7 linked regions of the Homo sapiens genome follow. The protein of the gene in region 6 purifies or fractionates together with the protein of the main gene of each other region. This does not show direct contact. Each region holds a gene or a part of one and is shown on either strand. Other genes may lie near its edges.

What was found.
Region 1: the proteins of RAMP3 (region 6) and CDS2 purify together in Homo sapiens (affinity purification with mass spectrometry; one large-scale study listed by BioGRID and IntAct). This does not show direct contact.
Region 2: the proteins of RAMP3 (region 6) and FAM210A purify together in Homo sapiens (affinity purification with mass spectrometry; one large-scale study listed by BioGRID and IntAct). This does not show direct contact.
Region 3: the proteins of RAMP3 (region 6) and CPS1 purify together in Homo sapiens (co-immunoprecipitation; 2 studies listed by BioGRID and IntAct, with this or other methods). This does not show direct contact.
Region 4: the proteins of RAMP3 (region 6) and PARL purify together in Homo sapiens (co-immunoprecipitation; 2 studies listed by BioGRID and IntAct, with this or other methods). This does not show direct contact.
Region 5: the proteins of RAMP3 (region 6) and SPG7 purify together in Homo sapiens (affinity purification with mass spectrometry; one large-scale study listed by BioGRID and IntAct). This does not show direct contact.
Region 7: the proteins of RAMP3 (region 6) and BTN2A1 purify together in Homo sapiens (co-immunoprecipitation; 2 studies listed by BioGRID and IntAct, with this or other methods). This does not show direct contact.

The regions. Positions count from the first base shown.
Region 1 is NC_000020.11:5,133,172-5,137,672, reverse strand, and holds part of CDS2 (phosphatidate cytidylyltransferase 2), read right to left. Parts: intron 1-4,501. UniProt on the Homo sapiens protein: Catalyzes the conversion of phosphatidic acid (PA) to CDP-diacylglycerol (CDP-DAG), an essential intermediate in the synthesis of phosphatidylglycerol, cardiolipin and phosphatidylinositol.
Region 2 is NC_000018.10:13,719,517-13,724,017, reverse strand, and holds part of FAM210A (protein FAM210A), read left to right. Parts: intron 1-4,501. UniProt on the Homo sapiens protein: May play a role in the structure and strength of both muscle and bone.
Region 3 is NC_000002.12:210,591,017-210,594,598, reverse strand, and holds part of CPS1 (carbamoyl-phosphate synthase [ammonia], mitochondrial isoform b precursor), read right to left. Parts: intron 2,769-3,582; coding exon 2,630-2,768; intron 1,721-2,629; coding exon 1,643-1,720; intron 1,245-1,642; exon of another isoform or gene 925-1,244; intron 92-924; coding exon 1-91. UniProt on the Homo sapiens protein: Involved in the urea cycle of ureotelic animals where the enzyme plays an important role in removing excess ammonia from the cell.
Region 4 is NC_000003.12:183,863,936-183,868,436, forward strand, and holds part of PARL (presenilin-associated rhomboid-like protein, mitochondrial isoform 1 precursor), read right to left. Parts: intron 4,126-4,501; coding exon 3,930-4,125; intron 2,831-3,929; coding exon 2,690-2,830; intron 1-2,689. UniProt on the Homo sapiens protein: Required for the control of apoptosis during postnatal growth. Essential for proteolytic processing of an antiapoptotic form of OPA1 which prevents the release of mitochondrial cytochrome c in response to intrinsic apoptotic signals.
Region 5 is NC_000016.10:89,552,419-89,555,851, reverse strand, and holds part of SPG7 (mitochondrial inner membrane m-AAA protease component paraplegin isoform 1 precursor), read right to left. Parts: intron 2,874-3,433; coding exon 2,717-2,873; intron 2,059-2,716; coding exon 1,892-2,058; intron 1,367-1,891; coding exon 1,289-1,366; intron 1-1,288. UniProt on the Homo sapiens protein: Catalytic component of the m-AAA protease, a protease that plays a key role in proteostasis of inner mitochondrial membrane proteins, and which is essential for axonal and neuron development.
Region 6 is NC_000007.14:45,181,361-45,185,321, reverse strand, and holds the end of RAMP3 (receptor activity-modifying protein 3 precursor), read right to left. Parts: intron 2,166-3,961; coding exon 1,910-2,165; 3' UTR 1,072-1,909; downstream 1-1,071. UniProt on the Homo sapiens protein: Accessory protein that interacts with and modulates the function of G-protein coupled receptors including calcitonin gene-related peptide type 1 receptor (CALCRL), calcitonin receptor (CALCR) and G-protein coupled estrogen receptor 1 (GPER1).
Region 7 is NC_000006.12:26,456,222-26,461,150, reverse strand, and holds the start of BTN2A1 (butyrophilin subfamily 2 member A1 isoform 1 precursor), read right to left. Parts: upstream 3,197-4,929; 5' UTR 3,009-3,196; intron 2,545-3,008; 5' UTR 2,515-2,544; coding exon 2,433-2,514; intron 1,671-2,432; coding exon 1,323-1,670; intron 1-1,322.

The sequences.
Region 1 (4,501 bases), on a different chromosome or scaffold from region 6:
CCAGCAAATTTTAAAAAATATTTTTGTAGAGACCTACTTCTGTAATTTTTAATAATACATGCTTACGTCTCTTCTAGCCAGAGATGCTCTGAGATAATTTTTGAAAAAATAAGACTTAAATAGGTAGAAAGGTCAGGTGTGGTGGCTCATGTCTGTAATCTCAGCACTTTGGGAGGCCAAGGCGGGCAGATCACTTGAGGTCAGGCCTTCGACACCAGCCTGGCTAACATGGTGAAACCCAACTCTACTAAAAATACAAAAATTAGCCAAGTGTGGTAGCAAGCACCTGTTGTCCCAGCTACTAGGGAGGCTGAGGCAGGAGAATTGCTTGAACCTGGGAGGCGGAGGCTGCAGTGAGCCGAGATCACGCTACTGCACTCCAGCCTGGGCGACAGGGCGAGACTCCATCTCAAAAAAAAAAAAAGGGTAGAAATGAGGGAGGGTGACAGAAAGAACACATTTCAGAGGTAGGAAAGAGCAAGAATCAAGATCCATGACACAGAGGCACCAAGCAGGGAGAAAGGCCAGTTAAGAGAGAAGGCTACATAAAAAAGAATAAAATCATATCCTTTGTGGCAACATGGATGCAGCTAGGGGTCATTATCCTAAGCAAATTAATGCAAGAAGAGAAAACCAAACACTACATGTTCTCACTTGCAGAGTGAACTGGGAGCTACACATGGACACAAAGAGGGGAACAAGAGACACCAGGGCTTGAGGGTGGAGAGTGGGAGGCTGGTGAGGATTGAAAAACTACCCATCTAGTACTATGCTCACTACCTAGGTGACAAAATCATTTGTACACCAAACCTCAGCAATGTGCAATTTGCCCGTGTACCAAACCTGCACATGTATCCCCTGAACCTAAAACAAGAATTGGAAGGAAATGAGAGACAGAAGACTACAAAGGATCTTAAAGTTTAAGCATTATGAAAAAGAGCCAGAATTCTATCACTCCACCCCACCCCCCCAATAATTATTAGGGCAGTTTCAGAACTCCTGAAAGATACAAAGAACAAGATGGATTAGGAGGGACCTAGAGCAAATCCTAACAGGAGGGAGCTCAATTCACAGGGTTTACAATAAGGCAAGCAATAAATCCTGAAATTTGGGAAATCTCAAAGAGTAAAAGACAGATAAGGATTCCAGGAGAGGTAAGGAATTCGGATTTAGGATACTGCAGGCATTTACAATACTGCAGTCCTGAAATGTTGAAGTCTCCAAGAGCAACAAACAGACAACAAACAACAAACAGATAAGGATTCCAAGTCACACCTGGTTAGAATCTGCATCCTGCCCTGGGCACGGGAACAAAGGAATAGGAGATTTCAAGCCTGAGTAACCGAGTCATCTGGGATTTTATCGCAGAAGAAAGAAACTGAAGGAGGGTGGTAAGAGTAGAATGAGAGAATTCAGATTTGAGACAAAGTCAGTTTGTGTGGACTGAAGGGCATGCACCTAGGAATGTCTTGTAGACCACTGAAACCACAGGACTAGCCAGGCATGGACTGTGGAGATATGGCTCTGAGAGTTGCCCACTCAGGGGTTCGGTGTCAATGGCAGACATCCTCTCCACATCAGAGACCCAGGGGCAGAGAGTGTTGCCCGTAAATCCCAAGTCCCAGGAACTCTCAAAACCTCAGCAAAGTCTTTACAGAGAAGCCCCAAGCTGGCCCTATGGAGACCTTAATACAAAGGAGCTTCTGCCAAAGACAACAAATCAAAAAGATGTCTGACTTTGGTAGGACAGGTCAGGTCCTTCCACACAGACAGCAGTGCTCATGAGAACCACAGTGTGGCATGAGGCTGTCCCTGGGGAGAGGCAGGCGGGAGAAAGGAAACTTCACAGAATACCCTTTGCTGCCTACAAATTCTGCACCACAGACTGCCTACTCAAAATAACACCATAAAGTTTAACTTTCTTCAAAAGGTCAGTCAACTTAGTGGGCTCAATGCCATCCCTACTGTTGGGGCAAACAACATGAGAACAAATATCAGTGACTGGCATAGGAAGCTGCCCGGTGGGGACCATACGTGGGGGTGGGGAGGGGGTGCCTCACTATTACCCCAGCCAAGTAACCACCACATGACAAGACTTGGAAGGCAGGAACCCTGCCCAGTGCCAGGAACAAATTAGCATTCTTTCAAGGAGACTTTGGCAAAATTAATAGTGAAGAGTCAGTGTCCGTCTCTTTTCTGAACCAGAGGCAGTATGACACACAAACAGCTGTACTTTTTCACCCCCAACAGCCTCTAGTGCCAGTCCAGAAGGGCTGGGAGACCTTAACAACATAGAATGTAGCTTAACAAACTGTGGAGAGGAATCTCCTCCACCTACGTGGATCCTAGAAAAGATGGAAAAGTGTGAAAACCAGAAACAGTAACACTCAAATCTTTTCAAACAGTTTAAAGGATGATTATCTGCCCTGTGAAATTAGTTACAATGGCCGGGCACGGTGGCTCACGCTGTACCAGCCCTTTGAGAGGCCGAGGCGAGAAGATCGCTTGAACCCAGGAGTTCAATGGTCAACATTTTAAGACCCTGTCTCTATTATAAAATAAGTATGTATATATTTATATATATAAATTCAAAAAAGAAATTAGTTACAAGATTCATTTTAAAAAGAGTTTCTCAAATATATTCAAGATTATATAATTTCTGGCAGTTGTAAGGTTGAGAATAAAGTGAGGGAGGAGAAATGCTTTACATTAGTAGGACAGTGCAGGTTTTATACAATCTTCTTGTTTATCAAACATATTCTGAATGATTTTATCAAGTATTATGTTCCCATATCCATCAGCTGTTAGACTCTCATGCTCATTTTCTACCTTACCAATTTAAATATGCAGTCGGCTGGGTACGGTGGCTCATGCCTGTAATCCCAGCATTGTAGAAGGCCAAGGCAGGCAGATCACCTGAAGTCAGGAATTTGAGACCAGCCTGGCCAACATGGTGAAACCCTGTCTCTACTAAAAATATAAAAATTAGCTGGGTGTGATGGTGGGCGCCTGTAATCCCAGCTACTCGGGAGGCTGAGGCAGGAGAATCACTTGAACTCGGGAGGCAGAGGTTGCAGTGAGCTGAGATCACGCCATTGGACTCCAGCCTGGGCAACAAGAGAGAAACTCCATCTCAAAAAATAAATAGATAAATAAAAATAAAACTCTTAAATATTATTGATTTAAAAAAGATTGTATTATTTCTTTAAATCAGTAGGGAAAAAATTGATTATGTGGAGTCAAAACAGGCAATAAAATTCTGAATAATATCCTTATGAACACTGATAACACCAGCCCCTCTCAGAAATACAGACACCGTCCATAGCAGACCCTACAGTCAGTGAATGTTCTAAAGAGAAGCGTTGAATACTGAATGACTGCTTATTACTAGAACAAATGGTTCTCATGCTAACAGTCATTAACTGGAAAGCATTTCTTCCAAGCACCCTCACCCACTGCCTGGGTAAGGCGCCTTGTGGTCTTCAAGCACTGCGCCGGGAGTGCCTTTCAAGGATACCAGAGTGGCCACTCCCAGGAAAGTGCTCACAAATGTCTAAATCACAGTCATCCGATAACCAGGAAAACTGAAACTAATCAACTTTCTCTATAAAACACATACATTTTTTTCTGCAAAGAGTCTCCACATTTACTCTGAGACCTTTTTAACATTTAACATTTTGAAAGATTTATATAGTATTTTTTTGATTTTGTAGCCAAATAAGAAAAATAGGTAACATTTGGGTATCATATCTATCAATGTTAATCAATAAAGAAGCTTTTAAAGTCTGTAAATTAATTCTATGAGAAAAAAATAAAAAACAACAACCGGGAATTAGAAGACCTTCATAGGCCAGGCGCGGTGGCTCACGCCTGTAATCCCATCACTTTGGTAGGCCAAGGCGGGAGTATCACCTGAGGTCAGGAGTTCGAGACCAGCCTGACCAACATGGAGAAACCCCATCTCTACTAAAAATACAAAATTAGCTGGGCGTGGTGGCATGCCCGTAATCCCAGTTACTCAGGAGGCTGAGGCAGGAGAATTGCTTGAACCCAGGAGGCAGAGGTTGCGGTCAGCTGAGATTATACCATTACACTCCAGCCTGGGCCAACAACAGCGAAACTTCGTCTCAAAAAATAAATAAATAGAAGACCTTCATAATACGAACCATTCTGTATCTAACCAACTAAGTCATCTTGAGCTAATAACTTAAACTCTCTGAGCTGTGGCATCCTCTTCTATAAAATAACTACCTCAAGCCGGGTGCCATGGCTCAGGCCTGTAGTCCTGAGCTACTCAGGAGACTGAGGTAGGAGGATGGCTTGAGCTCAGGAGTTTAAAGCTGTAGTGAGCTATGACTGTGCCACTACACTCCAGCCTGGGCAACAAGGTGAGACCCTGTTCCTAAAAATAAAAAACACCTTTAAAGTCCCTTCTAGTCCTAACAACCAAGGAGAGCAATTTAACATTTTTTAAAGATGATAAAAATTCTTTTTTTTTGAG
Region 2 (4,501 bases), on a different chromosome or scaffold from region 6:
TTTTGAAACATAGAGATTGTTTTAAAAATGTAGAAACAATGTTATAGTTTCCTAAGATAGTGTTCTGTGAAGAGAGGTGGTTCATGGAAGCTTTGTTCCTCCAAATAGTTTTGGATGAAGGACTTTTCCTCTGTTCCACTCAGGAAAGTGTTCCTACTGAAATTTCATTGTCTTTCTGGAACAAATAAAATATTATTGTTTAAAAGGTTTTTCCTTCAGTTGAAAATAAGATTTTGTTGAGTAATACTGTGTGTGATGATTAGTTTTATTATGTCAGCTTAGCTAGGCTATAATACCTAGTTATTTAATCAGATACTAGTTTGGTTGATGCTATGATGGTATTCTGAAGACGTGGTTAACATCTATAATCAGTTGACCTAAACTAAAGGATATTACCCTAAATAATGTGGGTGGACCTCATTCAATCAATTGAAGGCTAAAAAAGCCAAAACTGAAGTGTCCTGAAGAAGACAGTATTTTCCTCAAGACTGCAGCATCAATTCCTGCCTAAGTTTCCTGTCTGTAGATCTACCCTACACATTTTGAAGTTGCTATCCCCTACAGTTGTGTGAGCCAGTTCCTTAAAATACCAATATCTCTGTATCTGTCTATATGTAGATGAAGATATTTATGTTTTTATCTACATCTATATATTTTTTCCTATCAGTTCTGTATCTCTGTAGAGCCCTGACTGATTCAAATTTGGGTGCTGAGAGTGCTTCTAGTGAGCAGAATCTTAAGGATGAGTTTTCTGAATTGATTATAGTGTTTCTGGAATTGGTTTTCCAAACTGATCAGATTCAAAGGCAGTAATGAGTATTCCCTGTAGAAAAGAGGGCACTGATAGTCCCTGGTGTGATATGGCAACAAAGATATGCAAAAGATCACTATTAGATACTCCCACTCATGCTTATAGACAAGATTCAGAATGATCAGGTATTTGATACCTTAGAACATTTTAATCGAATTAATGAGTACAATAAGATAGGCTGGTTGCTTTTAACTGTACTGGGTAAAGTGAGAAAAGAAAAGGATGATCCCAGCTACTCAGGAGGCTGAGGCAGGAGAATCGCTTGAACCCAGGAGGCGGAGGTTGCAGTGAGCCGAGATTGCACCACTGCACTCCAACCTGAGTGACAGAGTGAGACTGTCTCAAAAAAAAAAAAAAGAAAGGAAAGAAAAGGGGAGCTTAAGGCTTCAAATTCCCGATTGAAGCTCCACATAAGTGACCTGAAAAGTTTCTGTGTCTGCCCTAAAGAAACCCGTATCTCTTGTAGCTACAGAGCTGAGGTTGGTGAAAACCAAATCCAGAGTCTTATCCTGTAGGTGGCTGAATTACAGTGCTAACTGAATTCCCTTCTCACCTTGGTCTGCTATTAAAATGAGGGCATTGATTGGGAAGGAATGGGATCTGCACATTTGGAATAGGGCCATATGGGAACATCCTGATGAAGCTGGGGATGTTAAACTCCTAAATTTGACTCACTCTTTTTTGCCAGTAGAAGCAGTTCTTCCACCTCTGAGGAGGTTAACTCTGCTTTGCCTGAAGAACCTGTAATGACCTCCCTTGAGGTAGTTACCTTGCAAGACATTGCCGGTTTTCCTCAGGAATCCGTGAAGAGCTCTGGGGTTGCTTTTCTCTTCAGGTCAGAGATTGCAGTGGGAGCTGTTGCCACTGACTGGGGGTCCTTAGCTGCAGCAGGGATGGTTGGATCTAGGATGGCAGGGGCTATGTGATCACCAAAGAGTAAGTAGGTGTGTTGCCATCATGGGGGACAGCGGAGTCAAAGCAACAATCTGAACAGCCTGACTTGGGGGTCCTAATTGGGTAGGTGGTCATGGTGTCCCTAGAAGAGAACTCGTTGGGCAGTCTACTGAATTCTGACTTGATCTCTATAAGCAGAAGAGTTCTAGGTCAAGTGAATGGAAGCTTTACTTTAATTACCAAAGAAAGAGTCATGGTCCCTCAATCAGTTCCCAGATTTGAGTCATTTTACAGACTCAGAACCCCCTGACTGAGGGGAGGCTGGATCCTTTTGAGGAAGGACCCCATTGCGCTGCTAAGAATTTATACCGTTAATTTTTTTCTCAGGTTTCCCAAAGGGACCTATGGCTTATCAGGGTAAGTGTGCACTGGAGAAGAGGAAATAATTAGACTTCTCACAGATTACTGAACTCTTAAGTCTGAACTGACACTAATTCCAGGACACTCAAAGTGTCATTTTGGCCCGCCATTCAGAGTAGGGACTTGTTGAGGTTAGGTGGTCAATGGAAGTTTAACCCAGGTTCTCCTCACAGTGGGTCCCCATATTCATCCTATGGTTACTTTGCCAGTTCCAGGATGCATAACTGGTATAGACATACTCAGCAACTGGCAGAATCCCCACACTGGTTCCCCGACTTGTGGAGTGAGGGCGATCGTGGTAGGAAAGGCCAAGTAGAAGCCACTAGAGCTGCCTCTTCCTGGAATAATAGTAAGCCAAAAGCAATACCGCATTCCAGGAGGAATTGCAGAGATGAGTGCACTTAAGGATGCAGGGGTGATGATTCCTGACATATTCGCATTCAACCCTCCTGTTTGGCCTGTGCAGAAAACAGATTGATCTTGGAAAATGACAGTGGATTATCATAAACTTAACTGAGTAGTGACTAATTGCAGCTGCTGTTCCAGATGTCATTTCATTACTTGAGAACCTATCCCCTAGTAACTGGCATGCAGTTATTGATCTGCTGAGTGCTTTGTCTTAGTATCTGTTAGTAAAGATCACCAAAAGCAGTTTTCTTTCAACTAACAAAGCCAAAAATACACCTTCACTGTCCTACCTCGGGAATGTCAACTTTCCAACACTATGTCATAACAAGATCTCTGTGATCTTGTTATGAGTTGAATTGTGTCTTCTAAAAATTTATGTATTGGATTCCTAGCCCTTAGTACCTCAGGGTATGACCTTATTTGGGAATAGGGTAGTTAAAAATGTAATTAGATAAGATGAGGTCATACTGGAGTAGGCTGGGCCCCTAATCCAACACAACTGGTGTCCTTATAAACAGGAGGAATTTGAACACAGACATTCACACAGGGAGAATGCCATATGAAACTGAAGTAGAGGAACACCAAGAAATGTCACACATTTCCAGCAAACCATCAGGAGCAAGGGGGTAGGCATGAAACAGATTCTTCTTCACCCCCTTTGAAGGAACAAACCCTACTGACACCTTGATCTTGGACTTCTAACCCCAGAGCTGGAGACAGTACATTTCTGTTTTGTAAGCTCCTCAGTTTGTGGTTCTCTATTACAGCAGCTGTAGCAAACAAATAGAGACCCTGATTGTGCTTCCCTTCCACAAAACATCATACTGGCCCATCACATTGATGACATTATGCTGATTGGACCTGGTGGGCAAGAAGAAACAACTACTCTAGACTTACTGGTATGACATTTGCATGTCAGAGGGTGGGAAATCCAACAAATATTCAGGGGCCTTCCACCTGTGAAATTTCTAGGGGTCCACTGGAGTAGTGTAGGGCATGTTCCCACCTATAACAAAAAGAGAAGCAAGGTTTAGTGGGCCTCTTTGGATTTTGGAGATGACAAATTCCTCATTTGGGTGTGCTACTTCAGGTTGTTTACTGAGTGACCTAAAATACTGCTAGTTTTGAGTGGATCCCAGAACAAAAGGCGCCTCTACAACAGGTACAGGCTGCTGTGCAAACTGCTCTGCCACTCAGGCCATATGACCCAGCAGATCTTCTGGTGCTTGAAATGTCAGTGGCAGATTGAAATGCTGTTAGGAACCTTTTGCAGGCCCTATAGGAGATACAGTGTAGAACCTTAGGATTTTGGAGCAAAGCCTTTCCATCCTTTGCAGGTAACTGCTCTTTTAAGAAACAGCTTTTGGGCTTGCTACTGGGCTTAATAGAAACTCTACGCTTAACCGTGGGCCACCAAGTTATGCAACCTGACTAGAAAAATGACTAGAATATTTCAGCAGTTAAGAGCACAAGCAGATGGCATGTGTTCAAATCCTGGTTATGTTATATTTACTAAGCATGTCATCCTTGAGTAAGTGGCCAAACTTTGTGTTTTGATTTCCTCATGGAGCGATTTTATAGAATAAATGAGATGATACAGTGCTTAGCACAGAACCTGCTAATTTTTAGCTTCTCTTAACACAACTGAAACTGCTACTGCAATGTCTTGTGAAGTCATTAGTCCATGCCTTTAAATGTGATTGTAGAATTTTTTTGCCTTGGTACAGCAGAAAAAATAGAGTGATTTTTTTTTTTTTTAATTCATGTAAACCAGAGCAGAAGTTTGAAATAGTGAACAGTCTTGTAGGCATTATGTGCTTTCAGGTTCTGAGTTTATTACTTCTGAGAATTAACCATAGTAGCAGTGGTCTATGACCTCTGTGGGTGAAAGGGTGGCTGGGCTTTAAGCATGTGCAGCAGTGGGCAAAGAATGGAGGTGAGGGAAGAGGCATCAGACATTAGGAAGGG
Region 3 (3,582 bases), on a different chromosome or scaffold from region 6:
GAGATGCAACTAGTGCTGGCTTCGGTAAGACTGATGTAATGGTGGTAGCTTTTCCTTTCTTTATCAGTGAGAAAAAGGAATCAAACAGGTACTAGAAAAAAATACAACCAACTAGTTAGAAGCTTCAAAATTCCTAAGTTCACCAGATAAAACACAATATACCCAGTTAAATTTGAACTTCAGATAAGCAACAAATAATTTTTATTATAGCATTTCAGCTTTTTTTGCTTTTTTGTCAATAACTAAATATCTGTTAGTGTGAGAATTTAATCAAATAAACACTTCTGTTCACTTCAAGTCTTATAAAAAAGAAGTTTCCAACAAGCAGTAAACATATCAGATACCTTCTGAGAATGCCAAGTTTTTAGTAAATTGTATATCATTTGTTTCTTCTAAATCAAATTCTAGGTGGATATAACAATTGAAGCTATATCACTTATGATATAGAAAATTAGAAATACTAATTTAAATTTAAATTTCTATCGGCTCTAAAAAACAGTTTCTGAAGATTATTCTTAATCTTTGCCAAAGGATTTACTTCTGTTGTTTCACTAGATATGACAAATTACAACAAAGAATATTCATTTTGCAATTATTGGAAAGACAAAAAAGGAGAATTATGTGACAGTGGATATTATTACATCTTAATTGCAATGTTCCTAATCCGAAGTACTAATATATGCTAATTTAAATTTTAAATTAAAAAACTACTTAGCATGTGTTAGATGATACACATAACTAAATTTGATTTATGAGTTTCATCATGGGTTGGTAATATAATACTGATTTTGGCTATTAAGAACCAATATTTCCTAATAATATTAAAACAAGAACAAAATATAAATATCTAAAACGGCAATTCAGACATGAGAGAGTAGAGCAGAGCTTGCAGAAAGAAAGCTCTTATTCTCTTCCCCATTTTACCTCGAAGTCTTTTCTGAGAGTTCTGACAATGAAGATTTGCTACTGGAGGCCCCTGGGTGTGGGGAAGTCACAATAGACTTCAGATTTTTCTGGATATCACCAGAAGAATTTATTTGGAAAGATGGGTTTGAACAATGAACTAAGAGCTCACACACAAAAAAGTAAAAATATTTAGATTAAATACAAAACTCCTCTAAGCATTCCTTGTGGTTCTTTTCTGAAGCCGTCTGAATCATCTATGTATGTGCATGCATGCCCTCTCTCCCCTCCAACACCCTTCCCCTCCTTCTCCTGCTGCTGTTTATTCTCCCTTAGTGGCTACACAACCAGTTGCCATAGGGATTTTTGTGAAGTCACAGATGGGGGATTAAAATTTCATTTCAGTCATGAGAACGAGAGAGAGCAAAAGGGAATTCATTTGCATAGTACAACAATTGTAAATTTCAGAACTAAATATATTAGAATGATAATGGGTTTAAATAAAAATACCATCGCTTCGGGTTTCTTAAGGGCTTTCCCACTTTAAATTTTAAAAAAGATAAAAATTTCCTCTGTGACATTCATGGGGAGATTTTAATACAAAATGTGTGTTACCAAAGCACTCTTCTTGAGAATGTTCTGCTCAAGATCATCTGGGGTGATTATTTTGGTTTCTCGAATTTCCACACAAATACATTTTTTTTTTGCATACATAATAGGCCTCATCTTTTTGACGTACCTCAGTGTCTATTGGCCCCGGGGTGACCTCTGGGTGGAACTGCACAGCGAAGAAGGGTTTGCTCTCATGCATAATCCCCTAAAGGAATAAGAAACAGGAAGAAATTCCTTCTGTAACAATGAATGTCAAGTGTGGCTATGTATTATTCAGGGAACAATAAAGCTCAAATTTAAAAACTGAGTTAGATGCTTAACAAAATTTTTGTAACTAACAGTACTATTAAGTAACATGGTCCGATATCTTAAGGACTTACATATCTGACCTTTTTGATTAAGTATGGAAAATGGGTCAATGAAGACTCAACTGAATGTGTTTTCCTTTAAAATAAATAAATAAATAAAAAATTTGGTCTATAGTCTTTGGGACCCCTCTGGGTTCTGTTCAGAGTAAACTCAAGTCCTCATCTTATCCCCAAGTCCGAAATTACTTTTCCAAGGGTCTTCTCAAACACTACACCAGTGCCAAGTAAGTCCCAGAGACCCACCCAGATGGGGCTCAAACAGATTTGGACCAACAGCCCACTAACATTGAATATATGAGATAGTTGTTGATTAATAACTCAAATAGTGAATCTTAACAAGTCAACTGATGAGAGAATAAGAGAGAGAAATGACGTTTTAAAACACAGAGGGCTATGGGAGAAAACCTATAGCTGTTTTTCAACACTCAACCCCAAAAAAATCACAAACAAACAGGAGAAAGGTATTTGCATCATAGTGTATTTAAAAACTCTGGGTGAATATTCTGAGTGAATAATTTATTGCATATTTCAAAACAGCTAGAAGAGAAGATTTGAAATGTTCTCAATACAAAGAAATAAAAAATGAGGTGATGGTTATCCTAGTGTGATTTGATCATTACATATGATATGCATGTATCAAAATATCACATGTATCTCATAAATATATACAATGCTTATGTATCAATTATTTTTAAAAGCCCTGCGTTTCTCATCACCAACTGAACAGGTTTATTGACATCATTTACCTCATTTGTTTGATCGTTGACATTCACAAAAAGTGGTTTCCAGCCAGCAGGGAGGGTGTTGTCCAAGGCATAGCCATGATTCTGAGCAGTAATGAAAGCCTGTTTGTTTGTGATATTCAAAACAGGCTGATTCTGCCCTCTGGAGAGAAAAGGAGAAAAAGAATAGGGAAAAGGAAAAGTGAAGAGAATAATATAAATGTATTCCTTATAAAGTAGTGAACAAGTAAAGCCTATTAAAATTCAAAATTTCAATTGCTTAGTGAAAATCACTCTGTGAGAAAAGTCACAGATTGTTAATCCCAGTAATTTTCCCAACAAAAATCAATTCAGGAAGCTTTGTTGTGTGTTAAATACGCAGGTCTATTAAATTCTATAATCGGTTTTAGAAAGGGGGGCATTGCACTCATAACAAAAAGGGTTGCTCACCGGCTTAACAGAAACTAAGAAATATAAGTGACTTACTTTAAGAGAACTACAATAATTTTAAAGCCCGAGAGTTATAGGGAGATAACAAAGAGATGACTGCTCAGACCTGAATTATAATTTATGTAGAGGGTGGGCCATGGGAAAAAGCCTGATGTTTAATAAATTAATATTGTTTGAGGCAAAAAAGAGAAACCAAGAGGATCTAAAGGTTCCTCGGCTCTTAAGTCACACTTACCTTCTTAAAATGTTACAATGTTCTGAAATCAAGCTTAAAATCAGAACAATTTCCCTTGGAATATCATTTGATTGAGTATTATAACCTCAATTTATGCCAAGGGAAGGAAAATAACTTTAAATTATAGCAAGGTTATCATTAGAGAAGGCTGCTTTCCAAAAATGCAACAAAAGTGGTATCAGGTAGTCAAACAACTGTCAACCACGTAAGGTATGGTTATTTATTTTATTTTTTATTTTATTTATTTATTTATTTATTTATTTATTTTTATTATACTTTAAGTTTTAGGGTA
Region 4 (4,501 bases), on a different chromosome or scaffold from region 6:
TATGTATACTGTTTGTATCATTTTTCACCATTCTCAAGAACCATTTGGGTACATTTGGATATCAAAACTTCATGTGCAGACATGTGCTGGAAACCTATAGCTTTGTAAGAGATCCAGGATAATGGAATAGGTCAGTTTTACTATCTTCTCAAATACATTGACTGAACAGATGCCGATGGCTAGTTATTGTCATTTTCACCTGCAAATATTATCCACTGTTCTGGCATAAAGCCTCTCTAACACAGATAGGGCTCATGCTTCTTGAATGTGCCCATGGGAAAACAAGGAGGAATGAATCCCTTTCCCTACTTAGAGAAAACTCAAAACATCATTAGCAAAAAGAAAATGCAAGGCTTCCTTCTCAGGCTCTTGCTGGCCAGGATCACACTGTTCCAAGGAAGGGGAAAAGTAAAGAAGATATCAACCTACTCTCCAGATTGGAAGGGCAATGTGTCATTAAAAAAACAGAAGTGCTTGAAAACCAAATGGGCCTGAAACCACATATTAACTAAAATCTCAGTGTTCAATATGTATTGGTGAATAAAAGAAATAAAATATTGGCTGGGCTCGGTGGCTCATGCCTGTAATCCCAGCACTTTTGGAGGCCGAGGTGGGCAGATCACGAGGTCAGGAGATCGAGACCATCCTGGCTAACACGGTGAAACCCCGTCTCTACCAAAAATACAAAAAATTAGCCGGGCGTGGTGGCGGGCACCTGTAGTCCCAGCTACTCCGGAGGCTGAGGAAGGAGAATGGCGTGAACCCGGGAGGCAGAGCTTGCAGTGAGCAGAGATCGCGCCACTGCACTCCAGCCTGGGCAACAAGTGAGACTCTGTCTCAAAAGAAAAAAAAAAAGAAACAAAATACATGTTTTATCTAAAAGCAAACATTTTTAAGAAATCAGTTAAGAAAGAGGGCCATCGACTTGCATATAAAGTAAATGAAAAGCTCTAAAAGCTCCATATTTCTTTTTTTTTTTTTTTTTTCCGTATTTCATCTCGAGCACAGTTTAGAGACACTCAACAGCAGGTATTTACCACAGGTGTGTAAATATCATGTCACTGAGAAACGTTTAAAACTCCTCTTGGGGCCAGGCACAGTGGCTCACACTTGTGAAATTCCAGCACTTTGGGAGGCCAAGGTGGGAGATCACTTGAGGTCAGGAGTTTGAGACCAGCCTGGGCAACAAAGTGAGACTCCTGTCTCCACAAAAAATGAAATAATTGGCCCAGCATGGTGGCACACGCCTGTAGTCCCAGCTACTCAGGAGACTGAGGCGGGAGGACTGCTCAAACCCAGGAGTTTGAGGCTTCAGTGAGCTATGATCCCATTACTGCACTGAGGCCTAGGTGACAGAGTGGGACGCTGTCTCTTAGAAAAAAAAATCACTTGCTAGCTCTATCCCTAAGGCATGTATATTTTGAAAAATTCCCTGCAGTTCAAATACGTACTCTAAAGCCAGGGTCCCCAACAACCCGGCTGCTGACCACTAGTGGTCCGTGGCCTGTTAGGAACTGGGCCACACAGCAGGAGGTGAGCAGTGGGAGAGCATTACCACCAGAGCTCTGCCTCCTGTCAGATCAGTGGCTGCATAAGATTCTCACATGAATGCAAACCCTACTGTGAGATGCACATGTGAGGGATCTAGGTGGCACGCTCCTTATGAGAATCTAATGCCTGATGATCTGAGGTGGAACAGTTTCATCCCATAACCATCTGCCCCCCTGCAACCCCGACCTGTGGAAAAATTGTCTTGCACAAAACCAGTCCCTGGTACCAAAAAGGTTGGTGACTGCTGCTCTAAAGCAATCCATCAAGGTGATCCAAGTAAAACAGTGGCCTTTAAACTTTAGTAGAGCTGAGATCCACTGAGATCCTTAAACTTTAGTAGAGCTGAGACATCCTCCACGCAGAAACATTAACAACTATTAACATTAATTTCTTTTCTTTTTTTTTTTTTTTGAGATGAGTTCTCGCTCTGTCACCCAGGCTGGAGTGCAGTGGCACAATCTCGTCTCACTGCAACCTCTGCCTCTTGGGTTCAGGCGATTCTCCTGCCTCAGCTTCCTGAGTAGCTGGGGCCACAGGCATGCACCACCACGCCTGGCTAATTTTTGTATTTTCAGTAGAGATGGGATTTCACTATGTTGGCCAGGCTGGTCTCCAGCTCCTGACTGCCTTGGCCTCCCAAAGTGCTAGGATTATAGACTTGAGCCGCTGTGCCCGGCCAACGTTAACATTTTTAACAACTATCCGTGGTGATTTTTGATGCATGTGGGTAGAGGGACAGAATTCTGGAACACTGTTAAGTACAACACCAGATATATAAAACAGTAATCAATACTTACTGTGAAGAATATTAAGTGCACTGACTTGACATCTATTAATCTGATGTTGCCATTAACTAAAAGCACTTCATAAATAACCAGGCTTCAAAACCTGGGATTACCAGTAGAGTAACTACAGTCAACTATAATCTATAGTACATTTCAAAATAGCTAGTGGAGAACAATTCAAATATACCTAGCATAAAGATAAATGTTTAAGGTGATAGATATTCAGTTCCTCAGATTTCATTATTACACATTATGTGAATGCATCATGTACACTGAAAACACGTGCATCTATTAAGTATCAGTTTTTTAAAACCGTGATTAACTAGAAGAAAGAAAGCAGTGTTTATCTTTACCTCCTTTCTGAAGTCTCCTTCTTTTTGTGGTCTTATGCTATCCAACCAATCAGCTTTTATACCATCAAAATAACTCTGGACCCTGGATTTCAGTGATTCATATTGCCAAATAGCAGCTGATCCAAATGCACAGCCTGTAAACTATATAAAATTAGATATATTACAAAATAGATTTAAGAGGGAAATAGATCTATACATTATTTCCAAGGAGAATTCTTCACTGTCATTGCTTTTTACAAACCAACAGAAGGGAATACTTGGCACAGTGAAACCTAATAAGTGAAAAGGGCTTTTTTTTTTCTTTTTGAGATGGAGTTTCACTCTTGTCTCCCAGGCCAGACTGTAATGGTGCGATATGGGCTCACTGCAACCTCTGCCTGCCAGGTTCAAGTGATTCTCCTGTCTCAGCCTCTGGAGTAGCTAGGATTACAGGTACCTGCCTCCAGGCCCGGCTAATTTTTGTATTTTTAGTAGAGACGGGGTTTCATCATGTTGGCCAGAGGGGTCTCGAACTCCTGACCTCAGGTGATCCACCCACCTTGGCCTCCAGTGCTGGGATTACAGGCATGAGCCACTGTGCCTGGCCAAAAAGGACATTTTATTGTTTCCCATTGTATTAACTTCACAATACCCTGGGGCCTGTTTCCAGCTATAAATCCTCAAATAAAACTGAAAATACCAACTTAGCACCGCTTGAAATGCTGTACCAAACAAGGCCCATATGTTTATTCTCTAGGGCTTACATAAGTAAGCCAGAATTTAATAATAAAAGCAATTTTTAAGTTCAGACTCTAGGCCGGGCGCAGTGGCTCACTCCTGTAATCCCAGAACTTTGGGAGGCCAAGGCGGGCGGATCATGAGGTCAGGAGATCGAGACCATCCTGGCTAACAAGGTGAAACCCCGTCTCTACTAAAAATACAAAAAATTAGCCAGGCGTGGTGGCCAGTGCCTACAGTCCCAGCTACTTGGGAAGCTGAGGCAGGAGAATGGTGTGAACCCAGGAGGTGGAGCTTGCAGTGAGCCGAGATCGCGCCACTGCACTCCAACCTGGGCGACAGAGTGAGACTCCGTCTCAAAAAAAAAAAAAAAAATTCAGACTCTATAATTAGAATTCATGAGCCCAGCTCTTTTTGATCCCCCCTCTACCTGTCCTTACTTTAAGGGAGCCCAAATGGGACAAAGTACTTTAACACTGCATTTCTAGCAAGGTAGGTAACTCCTAGCAAAGTGAGCTCTTACCCCAACAGTAAAAAATAAAGGTTTTATGAGACTCCTTATAGGATAGGGAGAAGGATAAAAGACTGTTTCTTCCACAGGAGGAATCAAAGCACTTCTCTTGTATGCTTCACCACTTGTCCCTGGGTCTGATCTTCGAGGTTCAACCTTCCTGGGTGCTTTTCTGAATCCGCATTTTTGTTGAATAAAGAAGTTAAACCTATGGGGCAAAAATAACAGATGAGAAACACAGTAGCGTCTTGCAAATATCAACTTCTATGAACCTCCACTTGGCCTGCATCATCACCATCTCAATTTATTCTCACTCTACAGTCCAAAAACAGCCAAGACTCCTACTCTCAGACAGAATTCAAAGCCACAAAATTCAACCTTTCTGGAAAAGGTGACACACAAACTACAGCAACTTCAGAGGATACTACTTTGGGCTATTACTTTCTATCAGTCAACAAAATAATTTGTATCCATTCTCCACACAGAAAGAATCTGAAGACCTGGTAAAAAGCTAGAGAACTCTATAAATTGTCCGTTTCTTTTTTTTTTTTTGAGACAGGGTCTCCCTCCGTCGCCCAGGCTAG
Region 5 (3,433 bases), on a different chromosome or scaffold from region 6:
GAAACAACTACCTATCCACTGCCTACCCATCTGTTCACAACATGGGACAAAGAGCCGTGCACCTCTCCTGAGTTCTAAGCAGCAGTTACCAAACCCAGGGACAAAAACGTTCACTCCAGCTCTGCCCACTGTGAGAAACACATCAGACAATCGCAACTGAGGAACGTCCTACAAAACATGAGACCAATCCTCAAAACTGCCAGAGCCCTCAAAACAAGGGAGGTCTGAGGAACTGTCACCCCAGAGGAGCCTAAGAAGATGGGCGATCAAACGCCATGTGGACTCCCAAGACCGGAAAGGACACTGGGGAGACTCAGCACATCTGAATCACGTGTGGACCCAACACCGCGGGTCGGCGGGGGCTCCTCAGGTGGGAGGACTGCCCCATGGGGGCCTCCACGGGAGCGAGGCAGGGTGGCAGGGAGCTCTCTGCACCGCGCCTGCAACTTTTCTACATCTAACACTATAATCAGCGTGGGGCTGTGGCTCACGCCTGTAATCCCAACACTTGGGGAGGCCGAGGCAGGCGGATCACCTGAGGTCAGGAGTTCAAGACCAGCCTGGCCAATGTGGTAAAACCCCACCTCTACTAAAAATACAAAAATTAGCTGGGCATGGTGACGCGTGCCTGTAATCCCAGACACTTGGGAGGCTGAGACAGGAGAATGCTTGAACTGGGGAGGTGGAGGTGGCAGTAAGCTGAGATTGCACCACTGCACTCCAGCCTCGTGACAGAGAGAGACTCCATCTCAAAAAAAAAAAAAAAAGAAAAGCCGAGTGTGTTGGTGCATGCCTGCAGTCGCAGCTACTCGGGAGGCTGAGGCAGGAGAATCACTGGAACCCGGGAGGCAGAGGTTGCAGTGAGCCAAGATGTCGCCATCGCACTCCAGCCTGGGTGACAGAGCAAGACTTTGTCTCAAAAAAAAAAAGAAAAAAAAATTCCTACTCTAAAATTAAAGCTTTGTTTTAAAAAAATGTTCAAGAAAAAAGTGTAAGACTTGGGAAAAGATTAAACAAAACTGACAAAACATTGGTAATTGCTAATGGCAGGAAGAGGCACAGGAGACTGTGGCAGCCTTCTTTCTACCTCGGGGGAACACACTTGACGAGTTCAGGATAAAAAGTATGGAACACGTAAGTTTCAGTTGAGCTGGGTAGAATTCACATCGGTCAGAGTGTTCTCTGTACTCTGTGTGCCTTGGAAATACTTCACGAGAGGGGTGGGGACCGTGGGTGCTGTGTGGACACTGTGTGACGCCGTAGCCCCCACGCCTGGCCAGGGCCTCACCGCCTGCAACTTGTCCAGGTTGTCCTGCAGCACCTTCTCGGTGTGTCTGTAGGCCTTGGCCACCAGCAGTCTTGCTTCCTGTGAGTGGAGGGAACTGTGTCAGGGGCAAGGCTGGCCGCCTGGCTCCAGCACCAAAGCACAGAAAAGAAATGGCAGACTGGGAACACGGCCTTTCCCCTCCCAGGAGGAACAGGACTCCTCAGCCGACAGGTGGTCTCCTGCCCCTGTGACCAGTGCCAGGAAAGCAGGGCTCCGCATGCCAGCCCACCCACCCACACCCACCCACAGCTGCCTCACAGGCACACATCGGCCCTTCCTGGCCCAGTCTGAAGGACATGTGGGCCCTGGGTCTATTGCTCGGTGTATTTATTTGATATTCTTCCCAGATTCACATCTATAATTTCATTAGGAGCATCTATGTCCTCATTTGAGAAGAAAATACTCCACAGGTGGGAACTACAGCAGAGCCCAGAAGGAAGAAACCCAGGTGGGGCCTGCAGCTGAGCTCCGCTGGGGCGGCCGTGGGCGACCCTTGTGTGGTAGACCCAGGGACTCCCTCCCCGGGGAGCACAGAGGGCAGCGGTGTGGCCAGAGCCGACTCACATGGTCCATCATCTGCTGCAGGCCTTGGCTGAAGGGGCGCCGCCCGATGCCCATGAGGCCCTCCTGCGCCTCAGGGAAGGAGATGGGCCCGATGCCAGGTGCCATCCCAAACTGCTTCACCATGGAGTAGGCGATGCGGGTGACCTTCCTCAGGTCGTCCTGTGCCCCTGGAGGGCGGGGTCGAGACAGAGGCATCCTCAGCACTGCAGGCGCAGAGCAGTGCTGGGCCCCAGGTGTCCCGGTCAGAGCACTGAGGCAGCACCACCTCCATCCCCTTCCTCCCGAGGACCCACCGTGAAGCTGGACAGTGAGGACGTTGGCACCTCACCACTGTTCCTTAAGAGAGTCTTAAAACTTTCCGAAATGCTCTTTTATTTGGAAATCTAGAACCCGGGGGCATACTGGAGCTCACTGCATGGCAGTTCTCAAGCACAAGCCCAGGCCTATGCGAGGCAAACCCATGGACCTGGAGCCCAGGGGCCCCCGGGACCCTCCTTCAGCTCTCTGGATATCCCAGTGCAGTAATGGCTTCAGAACAATGAAGCCGCTTCAATTTTATTCCGTTTCCTGTAGCCATTACCAACAATTAACCAATTAAATGTGTCTAGAGTTGGCATATAGGTTAAGTTTTTGTCCAATTAAATTATCTAAGAAGTCTTGCTTAGCTCCAACTCTCTTATGACCACAACTTATCTTTTACAAAATACTTAATAAATTCAAAGCTACGTCTACACCAGATTCACCCCATGGCATGCACTGGAACAGAAGGAGTCATGCAGGGAAAAGCGCTCTGAAACCTCCAGGGCCCGCGCCGCTGCTCCTCACCAGAAGTGACCTCGTTGAAGGACAGTGCTTCCGAGGCCCGTCCTCCCAGGGCCATGCACATCCGCTCAAACAGCTGCTCCTTGGTGAAGAGGTGCTGGTCTCTGGGGAGCATCTGAGCAAAGCCCAGGGCGGCGTTTGTCCGAGGGGTTATGGAGACCTGGCACAAGGTCAAGATGACCCAGGTCAGTAGGCAGGATGCGTGGGCTTTGAGGAGGAAGGTGTGGGACTAAGAGGTCTCCGTCATTAAAGCGTCTCAAAGCAGGAAGGCAAATGTGCAGCATCCTCTACAACAACAGGGGATCCTAACACTCTAGATGGCCAGCCCAGAGACAGCAGCGTTCCCACCACAGGTGCCTGTTCACACACTGCCGGGAAGTGTCTTCTCATACATGACTAGACAGGCAGGGAGTCAAGAAGACAAGGCCCGTAGAAGACAGCTGAGAGGCGAAGGACAAGTTTCACCCCCGATGGCCGCTGCGCTGACCCCTCACACCAGCGACAGCTACTGAGGGTTCAGAGCAATGAGAACCCCACGATGCTGAGGCAGCAGAGGCTGTCCTCACCTCTGCTGCTCCCCCACAGCCCCACATCAGGTGTGCAAGGAGGTGGCGCGGGGCAACGAGCTAACTCGACAACACGGAACCGCTGAGTGGGAGACGGACGGAGACGGGGCAGGGGCTGGCCCAGCTGCTGCTTCTGAGAATTGTGGCGGCGAGA
Region 6 (3,961 bases):
TTGTTGGGGGGTTCCCTCAGCACATTTCAAGCATTTCTTCAGGGATGCACAACCAGGGGGTGCCTAACACTAGCCAAGGGGCAGGGCTGCACCTCTACCATAGCAGCCAGGAACCCAGTGCAGAGTGGTTCTGGAATCGGAATGGGCTGGAGGGAGCAAGTTACACAGAGGCCCCATGAGAGACCCCAGGATCCACTGAACACAGAGCCACCACTGCAGGCCAGATGGCCTGACACCTGTGGGCACGCTGACCTCCCTGTCTCCACACAGTCACCTCATCGGGCAGATGGTGTCCCATCTCAGAGATAGCTGGCCAAGGCTCAGGTGATGGGGATCGCAACCTTTCATGCCCGGCCAAGGCTGCCCCAAGAACATGGAGTAGACTCAGATTCTGTCCCCTACACTGTGCCCCCAATGGGGTCAGGCTCAGGCCACCCACCCAGACCTCCGGTCCAGTGGCATCCACCATGCAGATCCCCAGTGCCAGAACCTGCCTGCCTGGGCATTGAAGGGGAGCTGGGCCTCTAAAGGCAGAGGAACTACCAGGGTCGTGCCTGCCTCCACTCACAGGGGTCCTGGGATCCAGCAAGAAGATCCTGGATCCAACAGCCCACATGCAAAAGACACAGGTCCACAGAACTGGAGCCTGGACAAGGGCCTGGCCAGAGGCCTGGAGATAAAGCCCCTCCACCTGCTCTAGGGACCCCCCAGGACCAGCATCTGCCTCCAGCCAGACCTGACCAGGGCCTCTCGGTCCCCAGAAAACCCAGGCAGGGGTCCTAGCAAGCCCAAGGCAGCTGCAAAGGGAAAACAGAAGAGAGAGAAATCTTCCCTGTCATCCTCAAACCAATGGGTCAGGGATGGGAAGTGCCCAAGGGGCTGCGAGTAGCTAGGCAAGTCCCTCCTCCTGTCAGGCCCCTCTCCTATTGTAACACTCTCTGAGCCCCCTAAGCGCTGACATTCTGGGATTCCAGAACCTCAGTTGTTCCCTATCTGTACAATATGTACAGGGGACTCATCAGTCCCAAGAGATGCACCGTCTCTCTGAATAACATGAAACAAAACAGGAAATTCCAGAAGTAAGGTAACTTTACTCAGATAAAACACAGATGGTAGCAGATAGAGGCCACAAGCTCATGGGATGCCATTCCAGAGGGCCCCTCACCCACAGAGGAGCCCCTGTAGGAAGGAGGCCCAGGCCCCATCCGCACAGCAAGTCCCGGTGAGGGGCTCTAACACACCCCCACTCCAGCCTCTGGTCATGGACACAGCCCATAGCGGGCACAGCATCATGATGGAATGGACTCTGCAGGCCACGCATGGCTCCTGGGAACCCCCAGCCCCTCCCTTCTCCTCCCAGCCTTTCCAGCTGTCTTCCCACCAGGAGGGCTCGGAGGTCACAGCACGGAACGTCTTCCAAGAGCCCCTGCCTATCTTTCTGCCTGGATGTAGGCAGGAGCTGGGGCTGGTGCAGGAGCCAGGGCAGGAACCAGAGATGGGGTCAAGCAAGGAGTCCTAGTCCAAGCAGGGCCTAGACTGCGGCTAAGGCTAGGCTGGATTCTGTGCTAAGAAACAGCATAGAAACCTGCGGGCAGAGGCTCCGGCCCAGCCTGCGGAGCACAGGATGCAGCAGGTGATTTCTGTGCCCAGCACACAAGCTCTGGCCTTATCACATTTTCCTCCACTGGCCCTAGAATGAGCAAAGAGCTTGGGCGGATAGCCTGAGCCTCAGCCAGGGAGCAGGCTGGCCTCGAGGGAGCAGGTCAGCCCAGGAAGGGAGGGGTCTGCCCATGACCAGGTGGGGTGTGGCCACAGTAGCTGGAGATTGGCAGCACCCACCCGCTCTCCCATCCCCAGGGAACTTTCTTCCAGCTTGCCAGGTGTGACCCACTCCATCTCACCGGGACCCTCACAGCAGCGTGTCGGTGCGTTTGCTGCGCCACACCACCAGGCCAGCCATGGCGACAGTCAGAACGACGGGTATAACGATCAGCGGGATGAGAACCTCGTCTGGGGGGTCCTCCAAGTGGACCCTGTCCACGGTGCAGTTGGAGAAGAACTGCCTGTGGATGCCGGTGATGAAGCCCTGGGCCAGGGGGTTGGGCCAGTAGCAGCCCACGACATTGGCCTCCATCTCGGTGCAGTTGGTGAAACTCTCATAGTACCTGCAAAAGCAGAGGGGGTGAAAGCCAGGCTCTCGCCATCCCCCCTCACACCTGCCCTGACCTGAGGCCAGGAAGATGGGTGGGGTGGCTTGGGTACAGTCCCATTTGGCCACCTATTCACAGCCCAGCCTTGGAAAATCCCCATTCTGGCCACAGGGTCATCTGTGCCCATGACCCATTCCCTGTGTCCCCTGCCCACATTTGCATCACAATGACCATGACTTGCTGCCTTTGAGGCCATGAGCTCCCAGGATCCAGGGTCTCAGCCCAGCTTCCCTGGACCTCTAAGCACTACGCAGGTCTGCCCAGAGGACACACCAAGCCATGCTTCTCCAGGGCCAAAGGGTGCCTGGATCACAGCCGCTTGGACCTGCAAAGCCTTCATCATCCAGGATACCCTAAGAGCCTGAGAGGAGGGTCTCTCTGAGGCCAGGGGCCAGCCACCTCCTAATCAAGTCAGCCTGCCCTCATGTGCCAGGTGGTGGCCAAGTGGGAGTCAGACCTGTGAGCCCCAGTCCCTGCCTCTTCATCTCCTACTCAGAAGTTGCCTCCTTCAGCCCCATCTAGCAGGACATGTGGAGCCCCCTCCTGTGGGTCCCCCTGTCCATGAGATCAAAGATGGGAAGGGCACTCAGCAAACCACCCATGATGCTCCATGACCGCCCAGCACAGGCTCTGGACAGTCCTCATGCTGACCAAGGGCTATAGCCACCAAGACCCAGAGGTCAACTCAGCATAAAGGACTTCCCAGCCACCACCTGTTCCAATGGGCAGCCTGTGGAGGTGATGACCTCCCTGTCATTGGGGTCTGCAAGGCCTAGAGTGGCAGCCACTCATTCAGGATGTTCTAGACGAAGCTAGATGGACTCCTGCCCAGATGCCACCCCCTCTGTGCAGGGCTAGCACTTCCCCACGTCTGTGCTGCATGAGTACAGATGCAGGAGTGTGAAGGGTCCTGCCTCGGCTTCCCCATGGGAAAGTAGCCCATCTCCTCCTTCCCGCGCTGTCCCAGGAGGGAGCCACTGATCTGGCCCATCAACAGGAAAGAGCTGCCTCCTGCATGGAACATCATCTGGGCGTAGATTTCCCAAAGCATCAGAAAGGGGTAGGAAACAGGGACTCTGACCTACTCCACCCAGGGTTCTCCTGGTCTCCCAACCCCATGCCCCAGGAAGGGTCTGGGAAGCCCAGGTACAGTCACTCAGCCCAGCTCCTGACTGATCCAAGGCTGGCTCTCAGCACCTTGGAATGTAGGTCAGACACACACCTGTGCCTTTCCAGGTAGTGTCAGCAGAGAACAGCCAGAGCAAAAGAAACAGCCTCGAATCCAAGTACAAAGCTGTTGGCTCTCCTGGGCCTCAGCCACAATGCAGCACCTGAGACATGCCCAGGCATTAGAGACACCTCAACAGCTAGGTCCATGGACAAACCCTCATCTTCCCTGACCTGCTTCTCCCACAGGGCCTCAGATTCAGTAGCCTGCTGTCCACCCCAACCCCCCGCCAGCTGATCCAGGAGCTGGGGAGCCGTCTAACAACACCCTGCAACAGCCTTCACCTTCAGAAGTTCCCAGCATCTATGTGTGTGATGAGAATCACATGCGGTAACCTCTGTGCCTCCAAAGTCATTCCACTGAACTGCTACCCAGGAATGCCACCCCCCAACAACCATCCCCAGGGCTGAGATGAGCCAGACAGACCCTGGAGAAGACCCTCTGTGGACAGCGAGTCTACAGGGCAAGAGGAGTGATGTCTAGCCCCAGAACCGTCCCAAGAGGAGGTGAGGCAGGGCTGAAA
Region 7 (4,929 bases), on a different chromosome or scaffold from region 6:
AGGGTCAAGAAACCCTCCTTCCATGATATTCTGCTTTAATCAGATGCAAGGTTGCCTTTGTGTGTAGCAAAGATGGGGTCTCCTACCTGTTATGATTTGAGGCCCCCAGGGAAAGACCCAATTCCCTAGTCCTCACCTCCTCTGTCTGGTCTGATGGAGTGAAATGCCACCACAGATTATCCTGCACCTTAAAGGCTTTTTCAGTCCTCAAATATATCTTTTTTGTTGTTGTTTAATTTTTGATACAGAGTCTTGCTCTGTCGCCCAGGCTGGAGTGATGTGGTAAGATCTCGGCTCCCTGCAACCTCTGCCTCCTGGGTTCAAGCAATTCTTGTGCCTCAGCCTCCCAAGAAGCTCAGATTACAGGCACACTCCACAAAGCCTGGCTAATGTTTCTGTATTTTTAGTAGAGATGGGGTTGCACCATGCTGGCCAGGCTGGTCTCGAACTCCTGGCCTCAAGTAATCCACCTGCCTCTGCCTCCCAAAGTGCTCGTATTACAGGTATGAGCCACCACGCCCAGCCCAAATATATCTTTTAAAGCATAATACACTAACCCCAAAACTGAAGTAATCACTTAATGTCATTTTAACAAATTCCTAGAAATCCCAGTTTAAATGCATTTTTATGTGGAAGGCTTCCCTATTACCTCCCAGCAAAATTCGTAGTCTTTCTCTATGGAGTTAGCAGGAACTATATATAATTTTGCTTCTGTATTTCGTCTTGGTTTAATAAAACCATCTATTTACAATAAGTCACTCTCTCTGCAATCAGCATTTTGGGAAAGATGAAGTAAAGATTAATATTTATCAAGAAATAAGATTTGATATGTTGTAGTTCTCTGGGTAATCAGTTTATTCCAGTTGTCTTGGAACAATTATTGACAGTGTCTCCTCTCACTCTCAGAAGTGCAACCTGGGAGGCAGAGGTTGCAGTGAGACAAGATCGTGCCAGCGAGGGTACAACAGAGCAAGACTCTGTCTCAAAAAGAAAAAAAAAACCCAAAAGAAGTGCACAGTTCAATCCTAAGGCAGGTATAAGACTTCTCTTCCGAGACTGACCATTTTCCCCTGCTCACGGCCTCAGCTGAATTCTGCATGTGCTTCTCAAGAAGTGAAGCCCTTAGCTTAGCAGGGCAAACCCACTCATGTGTCCCTTGTGCAGGAGGAAGGATTTTTCCCTGGAATTCCGTTTCCACAGGGAGAGTGGAAAAGGGAGTCCAGACAAAAATTTGCTGGTCTGCAATGGGCCTGAGGTTAGGAGAGAAACTTTCCCCAAAGTCACACTGTGCCAAAGTAACAAAGCAAAATGAAGCGACGCACCTGCCACTACGAGGTGCAGGATGGCCTCATCGTAGGACCTGCCTTCTTGGAAGTAACAGCGGTAGGTGCCGTTTTCCTGGGCTGTGATGTTGTGTATGACCAGGGCCACGCTGCCCCTGCTGATGTCTTTGCTCACAAAGGTGGTTCTTCCTCGGTACTCCTCCATCTGCTCCTCTGTTCTCTCTCTGCCACCTTTATACACAAACACTGCGGGGGAGAACTGAGACCGGAACCACCGCACCTCCATGTCCTCAGCATTTTTCTCGGGTGACAGATGGCAGCGTAACGTAGTGTTTTCTCCAACCGTGGCCAAGATGGGATCAGTGGGCCCCACGACAATAAACTGGGCTGTTCAACAAAGGGGTAGAGTCAGACAAAGACACCAGCCATCACATCTCTAAGGCAAGAAAGGAAGCAGATATTCTAGGGACAAACTTATTTTTTCCATGGCCATAGGGTCTCTTTGGGCTGAGAAATCTGGGGACCAGTAGCTGTGGCTAGTCGACAGCACCCCTGGGAGCAGTAACTATAAAGTGTGCTTCTGCTTCATGAAGGAAACCCTGAGGAACCTGCCCTGAGCACCCTCTGTCCACCCTGTGCCCTTGAGGGGATTTTCCTCGATTTCCCAATCTAGTGCTGTGCCTGAGTGTACTGTAAACTTGAGCCGTGCAATAGGACACATATCCACTAGCTAGTTCCAACTGAAATGAGCTGTAAGTGTAAAATACACACAGGATTATGAAGATTTAAAATTTCAAAATGTTGACTATCTCATTGGTAATATGGTATATTAACTAAGTATTTAAATATTCGTATTTGATTATTTGGGGCGAAACAAAATATAGTATACAAATTTATTTCATGTTTCTTTTTACTTTTTAAAATAAAAAGTAAAATTTAATTTTTTTTGAAAATTTGCAATTGTACATGCACTCGGCCTTTGTGCCTCACTGTATTCCTTTTGGACAGTGCTGGTATAAATTCAATGAACATGTTCAGAATGAAAGGGTAAGTCAACAACTCCACAGTCCTTCTTTCTTTCCCTTTGCAGACTACAGGGTTGATGTTCCTTTCTGATAGGTGACAGCAGCAAGTGGCACACATCCCTACCTGAGACCAGTGCACACAGGCTGAGGAGGAGGAGGAGGAGGGAGGCTGGCCGGGAGAAGTGCAGGGCAGCAGCTGATTCCATGAGCACCCAGAGCAGGCAGGGACAGGAGGCCTAGGGTTACAGAGGAGAATCAGCCTAGGAGTCTTGGCACCTCAGTGCTGGTCGGGCCCAACCTCTCCCGTCACTCAAGTAGGTCTCATCAGTGCCCCAACTTCAGGGAGTCCCCTGCATCCGAAGGCTCAGGTATGTCCCGAGAGAGGGATTCCTTAAACATTCCATGAAGTAAGCCATCAATGCCAAGATCAAGGGGGCCTTTTTCCGCCCTCCTCGGCTCACTTCTCTGGCCAGAATGCAGTTTCTTCAGTTGTCGCTGGATTCTACCACACCCTCCTCCCTTCACTTCCTCCTCCCCGCGACCCAGGCCGGGCAGCCTGAGGCAAAGACAGGCGAGGCCGCGCCTCCCCACCGGTGGGCTTTCCCTGTCCCAGGACCCCGTCTCGTGTCCACAGCAGACCCCGCTTCCCCCACCTACTGTGCCCACCCCGGAGCTGTAGCGCCTCCCCTCCGTTTCCTACCTTCTAGAATTAAACGTTGCTTTTTCTTTTCTCCGCTGGTTCTCGACGATTCTCCAGTCGTCCCTCTTCTCTCCAATCTGCCCAGGGGCACAGGCACTACTAGACACAAACCTTCCCAAAAGAGGAGAAAAAATTGTTCTTCCCCTTCTCCTAGGTCGCCATGTTTGGAGATGCAGGAAACGAAATCTGGTCTCCTGGGCTTCCACAGTCCCAAGAGTTCCCTAAGTATTTTAGAGCCCAGGATTGGCCGGGTGTGAGTGAACCAGCCAATGGTGTCGAACCTTATTTCTCAGCAGTTGCTGGGTAGAATACACCGAATCACAAATTTCAAGCAGCAAATAACCTTTTGAGATTATCGGGTCTTTTTATTTCCTTTTTCTTTGTTCGAAAGCAAGACTCTCTCTCTCTCTCTTTCTCTCTCAAGACTCTCTCTCTCTCTCTCGCTTTGAGATTCCTTGGGGAGATTCCCTGGGGTTTGTCACTGAGGTCGGTGGCTTTGCTGGTGTCCACAAGGAGAGGCCTCTCTATGTAGAGGGCAATTTTGCTGGGGAGGAAACATGAGCAGGAAAACGTAAGCCGCCCCCTTTCCAAAGCCAGAGGACTCCTGTTCAAGTTGCTGGCTTTGGAGGTTGGGCCTGGAGCGCAGGAGGGCTTGGGGGAAGCTGGCATGGCTGGAGCGGGAGGGGTAGCAAAGGAAAGGAGACAGCAGTTGCAGTGGCTGTTATGAAGGCCTTGCCATTCATTCCAAAGCTATCGGATAAGAGGTGCTGAGAATCCTGACTGAGGATCAAAAACCTTTTCCCTCAGGGAGGTGGCATTCTGGTGGTGGCAGAAGATGGAATTGAGCAAAACTTTCTAGTTGTCCTTCACCTTCTAGATAGTAGGTGGTCAGGTTGGGTCCAAGAGCCACACACAGACACACACACTAGCACACATACCATCCTCCCGTAAACATCATCCCTCTCCCAAAGGCTCCAATCTTGTAATTGTAAAGATATCTTCCAGAATAATCTTCCCGAGGCCCAGTTGTCAATATTCCCCTCAAGTGTCTAAATGCTTAGTCTGGAGGCCTCCAATTCCCTTCTGATTCAATTCAAAACTTTGCAGTTAATACGCTAGCAATGGCTCCACAGTGGCCTTGCATCACAACGTTGCACTCCCTGTGGCCAGTGCTCCTTTTCCCATGCCATGGCTTTCATTTCAATTGCTTGCTCCATCTCTGCCCCGTGAAATCCTGCCCAGCCTTCGTGCCTACTTCCTCCAAGAACAACTCTGAATGTTCCTGCCTGAAGTGTTCTCGGCCTCTTCTGACACCCAAATCTTTTGCTGTTCCCACGTCCTGTCTTGTATTATTGTTACTCAGGTATCCACTGTGTCTCTGCTGTGACAGGAGTACCTGCTTCTCAGGACAGACTTCTGCAGGATGTGATTCCTCTCACCTTACAGGGCCCAGCTCTAAGCTCTAAGCTCTGCTCTTAGCTGTTGTTCAATGCATGAGTGACATGCTCAGGGTAAGGTCATTCCCACCACATCATGGCCCAGTTCCTGGAGTCATTTGGCACCAGAGTGCGAGAGAGAGGTGCTAGCAGGATTAAGCCACTCTAGGTCAGGATTTCTAGGACTGGAAAGGAGGAACCAGTAGGTTCCTTCTGCAGAGAAAGCTCTTTGATGAGAATAAGCTAAAGAAAGCTCTGAGAACTCTTTTTTCCATTGGACTGACCCTTAAACTGTCTCTTTCTCATACAGTAGTCTCACACGTCACCTGATGTTTCTGGATTATAATTCAAATAAGATTCTGGGTTGAGTGGCTTATGAGGGTAAATACATCAGTATTAGAACTGTATGTATATGAATTCCAAACAGGACTGGGCAGCTGTTGAGAAGAGGCAGAAGAGAAGGATGAAAGGGTCTAACAGCATGG